Homo sapiens: one gene and its partners. The protein of the gene in region 2 purifies or fractionates together with the protein of the main gene of each other region. This does not show direct contact. Each region holds a gene or a part of one and is shown on either strand. Other genes may lie near its edges.

Region 1 (3,500 bases), on a different chromosome or scaffold from region 2:
TGCAGCGGAGCCCTCCTTAGTTGGCTTACCTCAGACTATCAGTGGTGACAGTGGGGGAATGTCAGCAGTTTCAGATGGGAGTAGCAGCAGCCTAGCAGCCTCTGCTTCTCTTTTCCCGTTGAAGGTGCTACCGCTGACGACACCCCTGGTGGATGGCGAGGATGAGAGGTAAGATCATGTCATATTTCTGGAGACATTCAACAGATTTGAAGTTAATCTATTTAGTAGCTATATGTATGCACAAAATGACTCTAAAACATTGTATATTGTGTTTTGTATGTGAAAAATGCATTTTTATGGGAAGTTTTATAGAGCAAGAGTTATGGAATGGTTTCAGAGGGAGTAGGAAATAATAGTAATATGTAAACAATATTTTCAGAATAGTTGTTGAGCATGTGTTCACATTAAAAACAGGTTTGGGGGCGCCAAGTGGTTTTATTATCTCTAAAATGCTTTTTAGAAATATTATGGAAAGCTTAATTTTTGCTAACCCACATAATAGTTAATCTATTTTGAGCTGCTAAAATAATCTCTTGGGGGGTTGTGGTTCCCACGTTTGTTCTCCTTTACTAGACATCCCTTTTTCATTTCTACTGTGTTTGATCTTAGTCTGTGAAAGATATTGTTGCCTACTTTTCCTAGTCAGATATGGTAGGAAAGATGACTTAATCTGGGTTATATAGGTTGCCCTCATACTCCAACTGACCAACTTTTGCGTACTTATTTAATGGTCATTTTATCTGAACAGTAAAGGAATGGGAATCTTATTTTGTGGGAAAGGAGGACATAAACTATCAAAATAACCAGACTTATCTTGATAGTATGCTGAACATTTTTTCTTTTGCATGGTAGATCAAGGTGGTAGCCATTTTAAAGAACAGAGAAAGTAAGTCTTGGAGGATTGAATTTATAGAGGCGTGAAAATAAGACCTTGGTCTCTGGCTAATCTACTCCACCTGTTCCTTTCTTTCCTTACCAAAAAGATACAGAAAGCCTAAAGTACATTATTAAACCAAGCGTTTTTTCACGTAGATTGGAAATAATATGCCAGTAACGCTTATTGAATCAAATTGTGTCTTTGAAGCTGACTGGCTAAAAAAGTTGTGAAATCTTTCATGTTGATTTTTAAAGTAATGTTCTTTTCACAAATTTTCCAGTCTGTTACTAACCTTGATTAAAATGCTATTATAGGAGTTATGAAAAGACATCATTTTCACGGTGGAATTTGGAGTAAGCGTGCAAGATATTTAATTATTTTAGTATTAGTTGGAGGGTTTTGTGATTGAACTTTCATCAAGCGAATTTAAGCATTTATATTCTATATGTATGTTTGTGGGTTTTGCTTTGGAAAAATTGAGCATATTGCAAAATAGTTGTAATTTTAGAAAAAGAAAACAGGTCAAATGTTTCAGTGAGGTTTGTGTTATTTAGTTGTTTAAAAGGTAAGATAAAGACATGGTTAAATTGATAAAATCTTATCTTTCAAGATTTTTATTATTTTTCTAATAGTCAGGTAATTAAAACCTTGTTACCTAACCAAATGTATTCTGTATTATTTGTACAAAACTGTACTCTAAAAGATAAACTTTTAGGAGGTAGTTTCCTTAATTGTTCCATTATTATTGTTAAACCTTTAATTTTATCATGCTAATACTCAACTAATTTTAAAAGAATTACCACAAATATTAATGTTTTTTAAGTCAAAAGGTTATGATTTGAGTGAAGCCTCTATAAAAACAGCTATATTATGTGGATGCTAAGTTTAGAGAAACAAAAGACGGGTAAAATACACAAACAAAAACACTCATTTTGAATTCAAACTTGCCATGATTTTGTAATTGCCATTTGTGGTCTCCTGGCTTGACTTTCACCTCTTTTTCCTCCTATTGGTAGGACATGATAGGATTTTCCACAGCTTGCCCTTCCAGGCAATTAAAGTCAGATGATGCTACTTTCAACTAGAGTTTTAACTATAGGAATAGGGTCCCAGTTTAAGATATTAATATAAAATTAATTTTTCCAGATAATAATTGAGAAAAGGAATAATAAGGTGGAAATTATGGAATTCTAGAAAGGGACAAAAAGACATACTGAGAAATAAGGAAATATAGCTCTAATACAAGTTGTCTTCAGACACTGTACACATTCAATTATAATTATGTTTAGCAGTCTCTCCCACAAGACCAGGAGTTCCTCAAGAGCAGGGACTGTTTTGAATTTACTACCTATTTGGGCCTTGGTTAGTTAACATCAAAGTTTCGTGATTAAAAACCAGAAAATTTTTGTTTTAGCGGTATCTTAAATTCTGTGAAATCGGAATGTAGCCCTAAAACACCTTGTAAGATCAGAAAAGATATATATTATATTCTTTATTGTGTTTTACTGAAGATTATTTATCACTACAGTTTGGAAAAAAGTTAATTTTCATTTAAATTTGCCCTTGGAAGATAATTTAAGAATAACTACAAGAGAAAACAGTGATATGATTAAAAAACAAACTTTTAAAACCTTTCTTCCCATGGTAGCTTCTGTTGTCACTTGCATCTTCTGGGCTTGGTCACCATTAGTCTCAGGAGAGAGGGAATACATATATAATTTCAATATTATGAATCAGGAAATGTGTTAACAATATAATTTGGGCAGTAGGACAGATGAGGATGGTTATCTTTTAATCATCTTTTGAAATAATACTCTTAACACTTTAGATTATAAAATGTTTAGACATGTGGAAAGTGCCTTCAGTTGATCACTGGGAGAGACTATAAACATGGATCAGGATGCTAAGATTATGTATCTTGTTTTAAAAAAAATCATTCTTATTTAAAAGGTCTTAATGTCAGGCCGTGTGCGGTGGCTCACACCTGTAATCCCAGCACTTTGGGAGGCTGAGGTGGGCAGATTGCTTGAGCCCAGAAATTTGAGACCAGCCTGGGCAACATGGCAAAACCCTGTCTCTACAAAAAAATACAAAAATTAGCCAGGCATGGTGGCGCATGCCTGTAGTTCCAGCTACCTGGAAGGCTGAGGTGGTAGGATCCCCTGAGCCCTGGAGGTCAAGGCTGCAGTGAGCTGGGATCATGCCACTGCACTCCAGCCTGGGTGGCAGACCAGGACCCTGTCTCTAAAAAAAAAAAAAAAAAAAGTCTTAATGTCTTAGACTGTAACATGAACTGTGAATTCACCTTTACAAGAATGGGAAAATACAGGTATTGCATCTTTTATGTTTTGTGATTGTTATTAGCACAGCCTCTTAACGTGAAATGGGTCAAACTTCTATTCATCCTTCAAGACTCAGCTCAGATGTTCTCTTTAAAGCATTCTTTTCACTCAGGGGACATTGTTTCCTTAGCACTTTTTAATATTCCTCTATTTAAGCACTGTACACATTCAATTATAATTATGTTTACCAATCTTTCCCACAAGACTAGATGTTCCTCAAGGGCAGGGATGAATTATTTTTTTGAATTAATTAGCAGGCATTTCTCCTGATTTTTTTTTTG
Region 2 (3,500 bases):
CCGTTTCCCCTGTACAACCCATTCATTTTTAGCACCATGTTAATTAAAAATAGTGAAAAATTTTAAATTGATGTTACTTTTATCAATTAAAATAGTAGCTACTAATTTTCTGGCTATCTTCATCCTTAATCAACTATTTAACTTGACAATTTTAAGTTACTCAAACCAAACTGACAACTCCTATTGAACCTTCAATATCATGTTGGAAATCCTACTTAGCACTTTTCGGTGTAGTTAAATGCAGTCTTTATTGCTTTCAACTGCTGATTTATTTATTCCAATGTGCTTCCTTGCTTCAATTTTCACTTCAGATTAGTTTCCAGTCTATTACAGTAATCTGTTATCCATGGTGGTTGCCTCTGGGGAAAAGATTATTCTGAATAGCCAAAGTTTCTACCTAGCTCATTATTTACTCATTTTAAGAACAAAGCTTTTATTTTAAATATTGGTAGAAATGTCTCCTTCATAGCCTTTTAGATTTTTTTAATGACCTATGATTAGTTTTTTTTCTTTTTTGAGACTGAGTCTTGCTCTGTTGCCCAGGGTGGAGTGCAGTGGCACGATCTCGGCTCACTGCAACCTCCATTTGGCACACACCACCGTGCCTAATTTTTTTGTATTCTTTAGTAGAGACAGGGTTTCACTCCTGACCTCACGTGATCCACCCACCTCAGCCTCCCAAACTGCTGGGATTACAGGTGTGAGCCACTGTGCCAGCTTATGATTAGCTTTTTTTTTTTTTTTTGAGATGGAGTTTCGTTCTTGTTGCCCAGGCTGGAGTGCAATGGCGTAGTCTTGGTTCACTGCAACCTCTGCCTCCCAGGTTCAAGTGATTCTCCTGCCTCAGCCTCCCAAATACCTGGGATTAGAAGTGCCTGCCACCATGCCTGGCTAATTTTTTTTGTATTTTTAGTAGAGATGGGGTTTCACCATCTTGACCAGGCTGGTCTCGAACTCCTGACCTCAGGTGATCCACCTGCCTCCCAGTGTTGGGATTACAGGCATGAGCTACCACACCTGGCCCTATGATTAGCACCTTTTAACATCACTGCAGCACAAAACTGAATTACCCTCAGGGTCTTCTTAATATCTTCTAAGCTTCAGATCTGCCTTCATTTACATACCTTATATCCCCTAGGCTTCCTTTTAAAACTCTACCCTCTTTTTATAATTCCTTTAAATGGTATCCCAAAGGCAAGATCTAGCCTGATAGTGTATGAGTAAGGGGATAGGAAAAAAAAAAAAAGGATTCATTTTCATTATCACAGGGATCAAAGGCTCCTTTCCTCCTTTTCAGTCATCTCCGTGAATAGCCCTTTTATCACAATGAGGCATTAACAAATGCTATTTCATTTTAGCCACAATAACAAAGTATACTTTCTTCACTGAACTATTTTGAATTGCAATAAACTTTACTCACAGATAAAATAAGGGCCTGAAGCATAGTGTAAGCATACAAGTCTCTAATTAGTGTCAATTACAATAAACTTAAAAGTCTATGCCCATCCTAACACCCATATAAAATCTTACTTTCACTTCTGGGTTTTTCATGTGCATTATGCTCCCTTTGATAAAAGTACCTCTCATTCAACACCTTGCTACTCAAGGGGAGTCAGTGGCAGTTAAGGTCCTCAACAAAAATGCAACTCCGGAGGGGGTGGTGTGCTTAGTTTAGAAAGTGAATTCATCCCTATAAGCCTCACCTTCATTGAGAAGACTCAACTGTCATCTGACATAGAAGAAAATCTTAGCTAAATAAAAGAAAATTTAGATTGGACTTAAACCTTCTTTTTGTACTCCATTACTTCTTAACTGAATAAACTCCTAAGTAATGAGCTTTATTATATATAAGGTTCAATAAGCTCAAGGTTCAAGATACTCACTATATATCTGAATAATACAATATAAACACTAAAGTAATTAATCGTTCAAAAATTAGTTGTTGTTTTTTTTTTTAAAAAAAAAAGAGAAATCATGTAACCGCCAAACAGGTTCACCTTGCCCGCTGGCTAGACAGAGCTGATTTACCAAGACAGGGGAATTGCAATAGAGAAAGAGCAATTCACCCAAAGCCAGCTGTGTGGGAGACCAGGATTTTTATTATTAGTCAAATCAGTCTCTTGGAGCATTCAGGGATCAGTTTTTAAGGATAATTTGGTGGGTGGGGGAAGGCCAGAGAACAGAGTGCTGATTGGTTGGGTTGGAGATGAAATGGGAAGTTGAAGCTGTCCTCTTGTGCTGAGTCAGTTCCTAGGTAGGGGACATAAGATCAGACGAGCCAGTTTATTGATCTGGGTGGTGCCAGTTGGTCTATCAAGTGCAGGGTCTGCAAAATATCTCAAGCACTGATCTTAGGAGCATTTTAGGGAGGGTTAGAATCTTATAACTTCCGTCCCTCTCCCTCTCCCTCTCCCTCTCCGTCTCCCTCTCCGTCTCCCTCTCCCTCTCCCTCCTTCTCCGTCTCCGTCTCCGTCTCCGTCTCCGTCTCCCTCTCCCCACGGTCTCCCTCTCATGCGGAGCCGAAGCTGGACTGTACTGCTGCCATCTCGGCTCACTGCAACCTCCCTGCCTGATTCTCCTGCCTCAGCCTGCCGAGTGCCTGCGATTGCAGGCACGCGCCGCCACGCCTGACTGGTTTTGGTGGAGACGGGGTTTCGCTGTGTTGGCCGGGCCGGTCTCCAGCCCCTAACCGCGAGTGATCCGCCAACCTCGGCCTCCCGAGGTGCCGGGATTGCAGACGGAGTCTCGTTCACTCAGTGCTCAGTGGTGCCCAGGCTGGAGTGCAGTGGCGTGATCTCGGCTCACTACAACCTCCACCTCCCAGCCGCCTGCCTTGGCCTCCCAAAGTGCCGAGATTGCAGCCTCTGCCCGGCCGCCACCCCGTCTGGGAAGTGAGGAGTGTCTCTGCCTGGCCGCCCATCGTCTGGGATGTGAGGAGCCCCTCTGCCCGGCCGCCCAGTCTGGGAAGTGAGGAGCGTCTCCGCCCGGCCGCCATCCCATCTAGGAAGTGAGGAGCGCCTCTTCCCAGCCGCCATCACATCTAGGAAGTGAGGAGCGTCTCTGCCCGGCCGCCCATCGTCTGAGATGTGGGGAGCGCCTCTGCCCCACCGCCCCATCTGGGATGTGAGGAGCGCCTCTGCCCGGCCGAGACCCCGTCTGGGAGGTGAGGAGCGTCTCTGCCCGGCCGCCCCGTCTGAGAAGTGAGGAGACCCTCTGCCTGGCAACCACCCCGTCTGAGAAGTGAGGAGCCCCTCCGCCCGGCAGCTGCCCCGTCTGAGAAGTGAGGAGCCTCTCCGCCCAGCAGCCACCCCATCTGGGAAGTGAGGAGCATCTCCGCCCGGCAGCCACCCCGTCCGGGAGGGAGGTGAGGGGGGGTCAGCCCCCCGCCCGGCCAGCCGCCCCATCCGGGAGGGAGGTGGGGGGTCAGCCCCCCGCCCGGCCAGCCGTGCCATCCGGGAGGGAGGTGGGGGGGTCAGCCCCCCGCCCGGCCAGCCGCCCGG
Region 3 (3,500 bases), on a different chromosome or scaffold from region 2:
GCAGCTGCTACAGCAGCCCAGCTCACCCAGCTGTGTGCGTCAGAAGGTGCTCAAGTGTTTCTCCAGCTGGGTGCAGCTGGAGGTGCCGCTGCAGGACTGTGAGGCGCTCATTCAGGCTGCCTTTGCTGCTCTGCAGGACTCGGAGCTCTTCGACAGCAGTGTGGAGGCCATTGTGAATGCCATCTCACAGCCTGATGCCCAGAGGTGAGCTAGTACCCACTCACCCAGAAGACAACCTCTTTGGCCAGCCACACATCCATCCATCCATCTGTTCAATAAACATTAATTGAATGTGTACTGATACCTGGTCCTATGCTGGAGATACAGCAAGGAACCAAAGAAGACATGGTCCCTGTCCTCATGGTTCAGACAGGGAGGCAGACATTAAACAACTAATTATCAGTTATTCAATTAAAATATTTGACTCTCTTTTCCTTCTCTCAACTAGTCACCAAGTCCTGGCTGTTCCCCTCCTGACCATATTGCAAATCTATTTTTTTCCATTTCCATTGCTACCACCTTAGTCCAAGCTGTCATCATCTCTCTCCCCAGATTACTGTAGAGCTTGTCCTCACTCTTGTACCCTTCATTGTCCCAGCAGCCACAGTGATCTTTTGAAAATGGGGATCTAATCTTTCTGATCAGAAGCTTTCAGTGGCTTCTCAATGCTCTTAGGTTAAAGCTCAGAATCCTTAATGTGACTCATAATGGTGCTGCACAGTATGGCATCACTGGCCTCATCTCATGCTACTCTCCTTGCTCTCTACACGCTCACACAGTTTCTTTAATTCCTTGAATGTCCCATGTTCCTTTCAGCCTCTGGCTCATTACATATACTTGACACCTTGCCTCAGCTTAAACTTCATTTCCATAGGGAAGTCCTCCATGGATTCTTAAGGCTAAGTTTGATCTTCTCTCTTATATTACCTCAGAGCTCCCAGTATTTTTCCTTCTTAGCCCATAACATGATTTCTCTCACCTCTGTGAGGACAGGGACTCTGTCATTTTACTTTGTCGCATTGTGCTCGGCACATGGTAGCATTTGATATTTTGTGAATGGAGGAAAGTAGGAGTTGCCTGAGTTGGGAGGGGTGGGGCTGGAAGGGATTGGGGGAGGAAGGTGGATTGTTCTAGGCTTTAGGAACCACAGCATGTGCAAAGACTTGTGGGCAGCATCATGATATATTCAAGGGCCCTAAAGAAGTGAGTGTAGTGAAGTGTTTGGCAAATGTTCATTGAGCATGTCCTGTTTTGGGCCCTGTGCTGAGCTCTGGGAGCACAGAGACAAATGCTTTAGCTTCAGTCTCAGGAGCTCACAGTCTAGTGGACACATGAGTGGCAAGTACAATCAACATGATGAATCCTCTGATGGAGAACGCAGGGGCCTTGAAGAACCCAGAGGAGGCTTTCACTGAGTCTGAGGGCTGTGAAAGGATTCGCAGAGGAAGTGACAACCCAGCTGTGTAAGAGTTAGCCAGATGGAAGTGATGGATGGGGAGGACATTCCAGCCCAAGCAAGGGAAGGGTGAAAGCCCAGAGGGTCTGGTGATCTGTAAATCATTAGATGTGATTAGACAGCAAGATTTAAGGGCCAGAGGTATAGGAGACCTGGGCCCAGATCATGCAGGACCTTGGCCAAGTTTAAGATTTTGATCTTCATCCTGAAGACGATATAAAGATATTAAAGGATTATAAGCAGAGAAAATGGCCTACTGAGACTTTTGGTATGAGCTGGATTAGAAGAAGTGAGACTGGAGGTCCTGATGCTGACATTTCAGAGATGGGGCTTTGGGACCTTTGGCAGAATTGGAAGGGAAAACCATTGAAAGAGACTTCATGGAAGAGTGGCTGATGACTCAAGCCTTGGCATTAGTCACATCTAAGTTTGAATCCCAGATGGTTCACTTATTAGATCTGAAATCTTGGATCAGCCATTCCTAAGGCTCCGTTTCCTCATCAATAAAATGGGGATGATCATATCAACCCCACAGAGTTGAAAAGGTTTAAACAGGATAATGTGCACAAGTCCTGCCCCTGGTGTTCGGTAGAGAATATTTTGACTCCTTGAGTAATGGGAGTTCTTTTGTGGTCTCTGCTAGGGTTGGGATGGTCAGTAGCATGCATTTGTACCTTTGGGTTATTGATACGTTACATGTTTTAAAATGGGAACTGTGTGTATATGTTCTACCTTTATACTTTATGTGATCAGTTAATGGTAATTGTTTATTTATTTATTTTGAGACAGAGTCTCACTCTGTCACCCAGGCTGGTGTGCAGTGGCACAATCTCGGCTCACTGCAACCTCCGCCTCCCGGGTTCAAGCGATTCTCTTGCCTCAGCCTCCAGAATAGCTGGGATTACAGGCGTGCATCACCACGCCCAGCTAATTTTTGTATTTTTAGTAGAAACGGGGTTTTGCCATGTTGGTCAGGCTGGTCTTGAACTCCTAACCTCAGGTGATCCATCTGCCTCCGCCTCCCAAAGTGCTGGGATTACAGGTATGAGCCACCATGCCTGGCCAACTGTTCATTTTTTTAAAGAGAAACATAGTTACTATTAAATGGATTAAGGCTGTTTACTTTTAGTACTGGTCATAAGAAGTAGAACTGGAATCATGCAATAGAAAGTGGGCCTAGTTGTTCAGTGGCTAAATTTGAAAAGGAGTTGGTTTCCTATATATATATGTGTGTGTATACATACATATATTTATATGTATATGATACACACACACACATAGATAATGTGCTTAATCACTGCCTTTTGAAACTTTAAATAAAATATTGGGTTGATTTTAAAAAATAAAAGATTGTTTCGGTATGAGGATTAAATAAGAGAATGTGAAGCTTTTAGCATGGTTCCTATATACTCTGTAAACGGCAGTTGCCAGTATTTGGTTTCATTATTGTGTTGGGAGTTATTATGATACTTATCCCCTGGCTTCCCAGGCTTTCCAGCTTAAGGTGGATACCTAATCCCAGATCTCTTGGCAGCCTGAAGCTCAAGTGCTGGGTGGGCTCTGACAGTTGGTGACTAAGGGAAACAGATCAGGGCAAGTGTGTGGGTGATGTGAGGTGTCCTTGGATACACCCAAGTTTACCCGCCCAGCCAGTCTCAAGGGCTTTGGCAGGTAATTGATGCCCCTTCTCCTCTGAACGAATGAGCGAGCAAGGAGCCAGTGAGGTAACCCACAGCCTCCTTGGTGCCCATTGGCTGCAGCCCCTTGGTTGCTTAGCAACTCTCCCCATTTTCTCAGCTCTGCTCCTGAAGCAAAGCTCTAATTGCAGGTCTGGGCTGAGCTCCGTGTGAGCAGCAGCAGAGGAGTCCCAGCAGCCCTGCCTCGGCTACTTGAACTGACCGATTGGAGCCAGGCCTCTTGAACCCAGCCTCAGCTGTGGTCATAAAGACATCCTCCCTGTCTCCTTCCCCCAAACCTAGAAACCTCTGGGACCTCAGACTTGTTCTTCTGTCCACTCACAGGTCGCAGACACAGGTGCTCAGGT
Region 4 (3,500 bases), on a different chromosome or scaffold from region 2:
ATGCCTGTAGTCCCAGCTACTCAGGAGGCTGAGGTGGGAGGATTGATTGACCCCAGGAGGTAGAGGCTGCAGTGAGCTGTGATCTGTGTTGCACCACTGCACTCCAGCCTGGGTGACAGAGTGAGACCCTGTCTCAAAAAAATAAAAAATAAAATAAATTAAAAAAAAAAGAGTTTTGATCCTCTAGACCCCCTGAAAGATGGGGAACCTCAGAACTTTTGCTATAAGGGGACAAGACAGCAGCTACCATTCCTGTTTACCGTATATCAGGCACTGTGTGAAGTGCTTTACTCTCCATGTGTCACTCTCAACTCTGTAAACCTGGCATTATCTCCATTTTACAGATGAGAAAATAGATTCAGGGAGGCTGAACCTCTTGCTAAAACTTACATAGCTCAAATACAGATAGGTCTGATTCCAGATAGGTTCTTTCCACCCAACCAACCTGATGTTCCAGAACAGAAGACAGAGAAACATATGTAGCCTACAGGAGTCCCAAGAAAGCACCTGCATAAGGCCCCCAGGCCTCACCTTTCGGGCTGCTGATGATGTTAGCGCTGAGTGAGGATGGGCTTTTGCTCAGGAGCACGTCCTCTTCCCCAGCCGAACTCTGCGCATCCACTTTCTTCACCTCCCTTGCCAGAATCCTGGGCTCAGAGAGCTCATCCCCCTGGGGTGTGAGTGGTTTATGCTGGCAGAGAGCCGGGTCTCTTGGTACCAAAAAAGCACTTGGATCAAAACTTTCCCGAGGAAATTTGACAATTTTCTGTGATTTTATCCACCGACCATTTACAAATTGAAATCGCTTAAGGTGAATAATCTGGAGAAGTAAAGGTAGAAAACATCTGCATTAAAGGGTTCTGAAGATACAAAATTTACATGGAAAAAACAAGTCAAATACATGTGAATGTTTGGGAATATATAACAGAACATTTACTCTTCATTATTTTTTAAAGACTTCAAAAATATGGTTTCATAAAGGCCTCTACATAGGCCCCAGTGCACTGGTGTGCTTGTGCACACACACTCAACTCAGCAGTGTGGCACAGCCACGTGACTGCGCAGTGGGTACTGCCTCCAGGCTCAGTTGCTCTTCTAGAGTCCACAAAGGCTTAGCCTAAGCTTCCACCCTCCACAGAGCCAGAAGTTCACCCTCTCCTGAAGTTCAAATTCACCACATTGTACCCCTTGTGGCAGTTCTCACATCACACTGAATTGCAGTTACTGGTCTACATGACTGCTCTGCTTGTTTTATGTGATGATTATATGAAAATATATACTTGTCAAAATTCATCAAACTGGATATTAAAAATCTATGCTTTTAATTGTATGCTAATTATACCTCAATTTTTTTTAAAAGGTCTACCCGTCAGCCGGGCGCAGTGGCTCACGCCTATAAACCCCGCGCTTTGGGAGGCCAAGGCGGGTGGCTCATGAGGTCAGGAGATCGAGACCATCCTGGCTAACACAGTGAAACCTCATCTCTACTAAAAATAAATAAATAAATAAATAAATAAAAAACACACAAAAAATTAGCCAGGCGTGGTGGTGGGCGCCTGTAGTCCTAGCTACTCAGGAGGCTGAGGCAGGAGAATGGCATGAACCCAGGAGGTGAGGCTTGCAGTGAACTGAGATGGTGCCACTGCACTCCAGCCTGGGCGACAGAGTGAGACTCCGTCTCAAAAAAAAAAAAAAAAAGTCTCCCCCTCCTCCCCACCCACCTTGTCTCCAAGCCTGCCCCTTCCCTCTAGTTCCTATCTGTGGAGCTAGCTAACAACCAATGTTATTAATTTCTTGTGCATCATTCCCTGGGAAGCTGTTCTGGTCTAAGAAAAACCTACATTCAGCTTCACAGAGTAGTATGACAGAGACATGAATAGAATAAGAAAACATGGCTGGGCACGGTGGCTCACGCCTGTAATTCCAGCACTTTGGGAGGCCAAGGTGGGCAGATCACCTGAGGTCAGGAATTCAAGACTAGCCTGGCCAACATGGTGAAACCCCATATCTACTAAAAGTACAAAAATTAGCCGGGTGGTAGTGGTGCATGCCTGTAATCTCAGCTACTCAGGAGACTGAGGCAAGAGAATCACTTGAGCCCGAGAGGTGGAGGTTGCGGTGAGCTGAGATTACACCACTGCACTACAGCCTGGGTGACACAGTGAGACCCTGTCTCAAAAAAAAAAAAAAAAAAAACATATAAATATCTGAATTAAAATATGCCAGTACCTTACAGTTACACTGATCTTAATGAATAGGAAGATTTGTCACTTCAAATTCTCCTGACAAACAACAGGACAGTCTCCTAATCCATGAAGGGAGAAGGCAGAAGTAAATTAAATCTAAAAGAACACACAGGCCCTAGTGCACTGGTGTGCTTGTGTACACACACTCAACTCAGTAGTGTGCCATAGCCACATGATTATGTGCAGTGGGTGTTGGGGGCTCCAGGCTCAGTTGCTCTTCTAGAGTCCACAAAGGGTTAGCCTAAGCTTCCTCTCTCCACAGAGCCAGAAGTTTAACCTCTCTTGAAGTTCAAATTCACCACGTTGTACCCCTTGTGGCAGTTCTCACATTGCACTGAATTGCAGTTACTGGTCTACATGATTGATCTTCTAGGTTATAAGCTCTTTAGGAAAAAGAACTACAAAATATTTGTAGAAAGATTCATCTCTGTATTCAACATAAAAAGCTTGTACAGAAAGTGTTTTAAACACTGCTGCAGGAAAGGTCTTATTCTCAAAAATAACAAAACCTCCTGTTTGTTCATGTCTTCTTTCTTTTATGCCAGATTCCTGCTCTCTCAGAGGCAGGACTGTAACATACCAGGATGGGTGGAAGCCTCCAGAGATCCAGCTTCTTTGTTGCTAAGCAGTGGGTCTTACACTTGGAACAGTAGTACATCTCATTTTCCCCTAGCTCTTCCTCACTGGTGAAAGCACGGAGACAGCTGTCCAGGTTGATGGGCTCGGCTTGCGCTCGCCGACTCTGCTCCACACTCTCATGCTCATCTACAACCTGCAGGTAGAGGGAACAGGAGGAAAGGGGTGCGTGGGAAGGCATTTAAAGTGGTGATCTAGGTATGCATCAACCTCTTGGTCACTCACCCTTATTTTACTCTATATAAGGAAAAAGAAAATACAACTGGCTGGGTATGGTGGCTCATGCCTGTAATCCCAGCACTTTAGGAGGCCGAGGTGGGGTAATTGCTTGAGTCCAGGAGTTCGAAACCAGCCTGGTCAAAAGAGTGAGACCCTGTCTCTGTAAAAGAAAAATCTAAAAATTAGCTGGGCATTGTGGTACATGTCTGTAGTCCCAGCTACTCAGGAGGATTGCTTGAGCCTGGGAGGTAGAGGTTGCAGTGAACTGTGATTACACCACTGCGCTCCAGCCTGGATGACAGAGAGAGACCCTGTCTCAAAAAAAAGGGAAAAGAAAACACAACCCAAACTAGAGTCTGAGCAAATACAGCACCTATATATTTATTCACAAATGTTACA

The links.
Region 1: the proteins of HIGD1A (region 2) and TSC22D1 purify together in Homo sapiens (co-immunoprecipitation; one large-scale study listed by IntAct). This does not show direct contact.
Region 3: the proteins of HIGD1A (region 2) and IPO13 purify together in Homo sapiens (affinity purification with mass spectrometry; 2 studies listed by BioGRID and IntAct, with this or other methods). This does not show direct contact.
Region 4: the proteins of HIGD1A (region 2) and USP32 purify together in Homo sapiens (co-immunoprecipitation; one large-scale study listed by IntAct). This does not show direct contact.

What each region holds. Positions count from the first base shown.
Region 1 is NC_000013.11:44,569,831-44,573,330, reverse strand, and holds part of TSC22D1 (TSC22 domain family protein 1), read left to right. Parts: coding exon 1-168; intron 169-3,500. UniProt on the Homo sapiens protein: Transcriptional repressor. Acts on the C-type natriuretic peptide (CNP) promoter. Acts to promote CASP3-mediated apoptosis.
Region 2 is NC_000003.12:42,794,491-42,797,990, forward strand, and holds part of HIGD1A (HIG1 domain family member 1A, mitochondrial), read right to left. Parts: intron 1-3,500. UniProt on the Homo sapiens protein: Proposed subunit of cytochrome c oxidase (COX, complex IV), which is the terminal component of the mitochondrial respiratory chain that catalyzes the reduction of oxygen to water. May play a role in the assembly of respiratory supercomplexes.
Region 3 is NC_000001.11:43,949,950-43,953,449, forward strand, and holds part of IPO13 (importin-13), read left to right. Parts: coding exon 1-204; intron 205-3,500. UniProt on the Homo sapiens protein: Functions in nuclear protein import as nuclear transport receptor. Serves as receptor for nuclear localization signals (NLS) in cargo substrates.
Region 4 is NC_000017.11:60,182,634-60,186,133, forward strand, and holds part of USP32 (ubiquitin carboxyl-terminal hydrolase 32), read right to left. Parts: intron 3,019-3,500; coding exon 2,827-3,018; intron 821-2,826; coding exon 532-820; intron 1-531. UniProt on the Homo sapiens protein: Deubiquitinase that can remove conjugated ubiquitin from target proteins, such as RAB7A and LAMTOR1.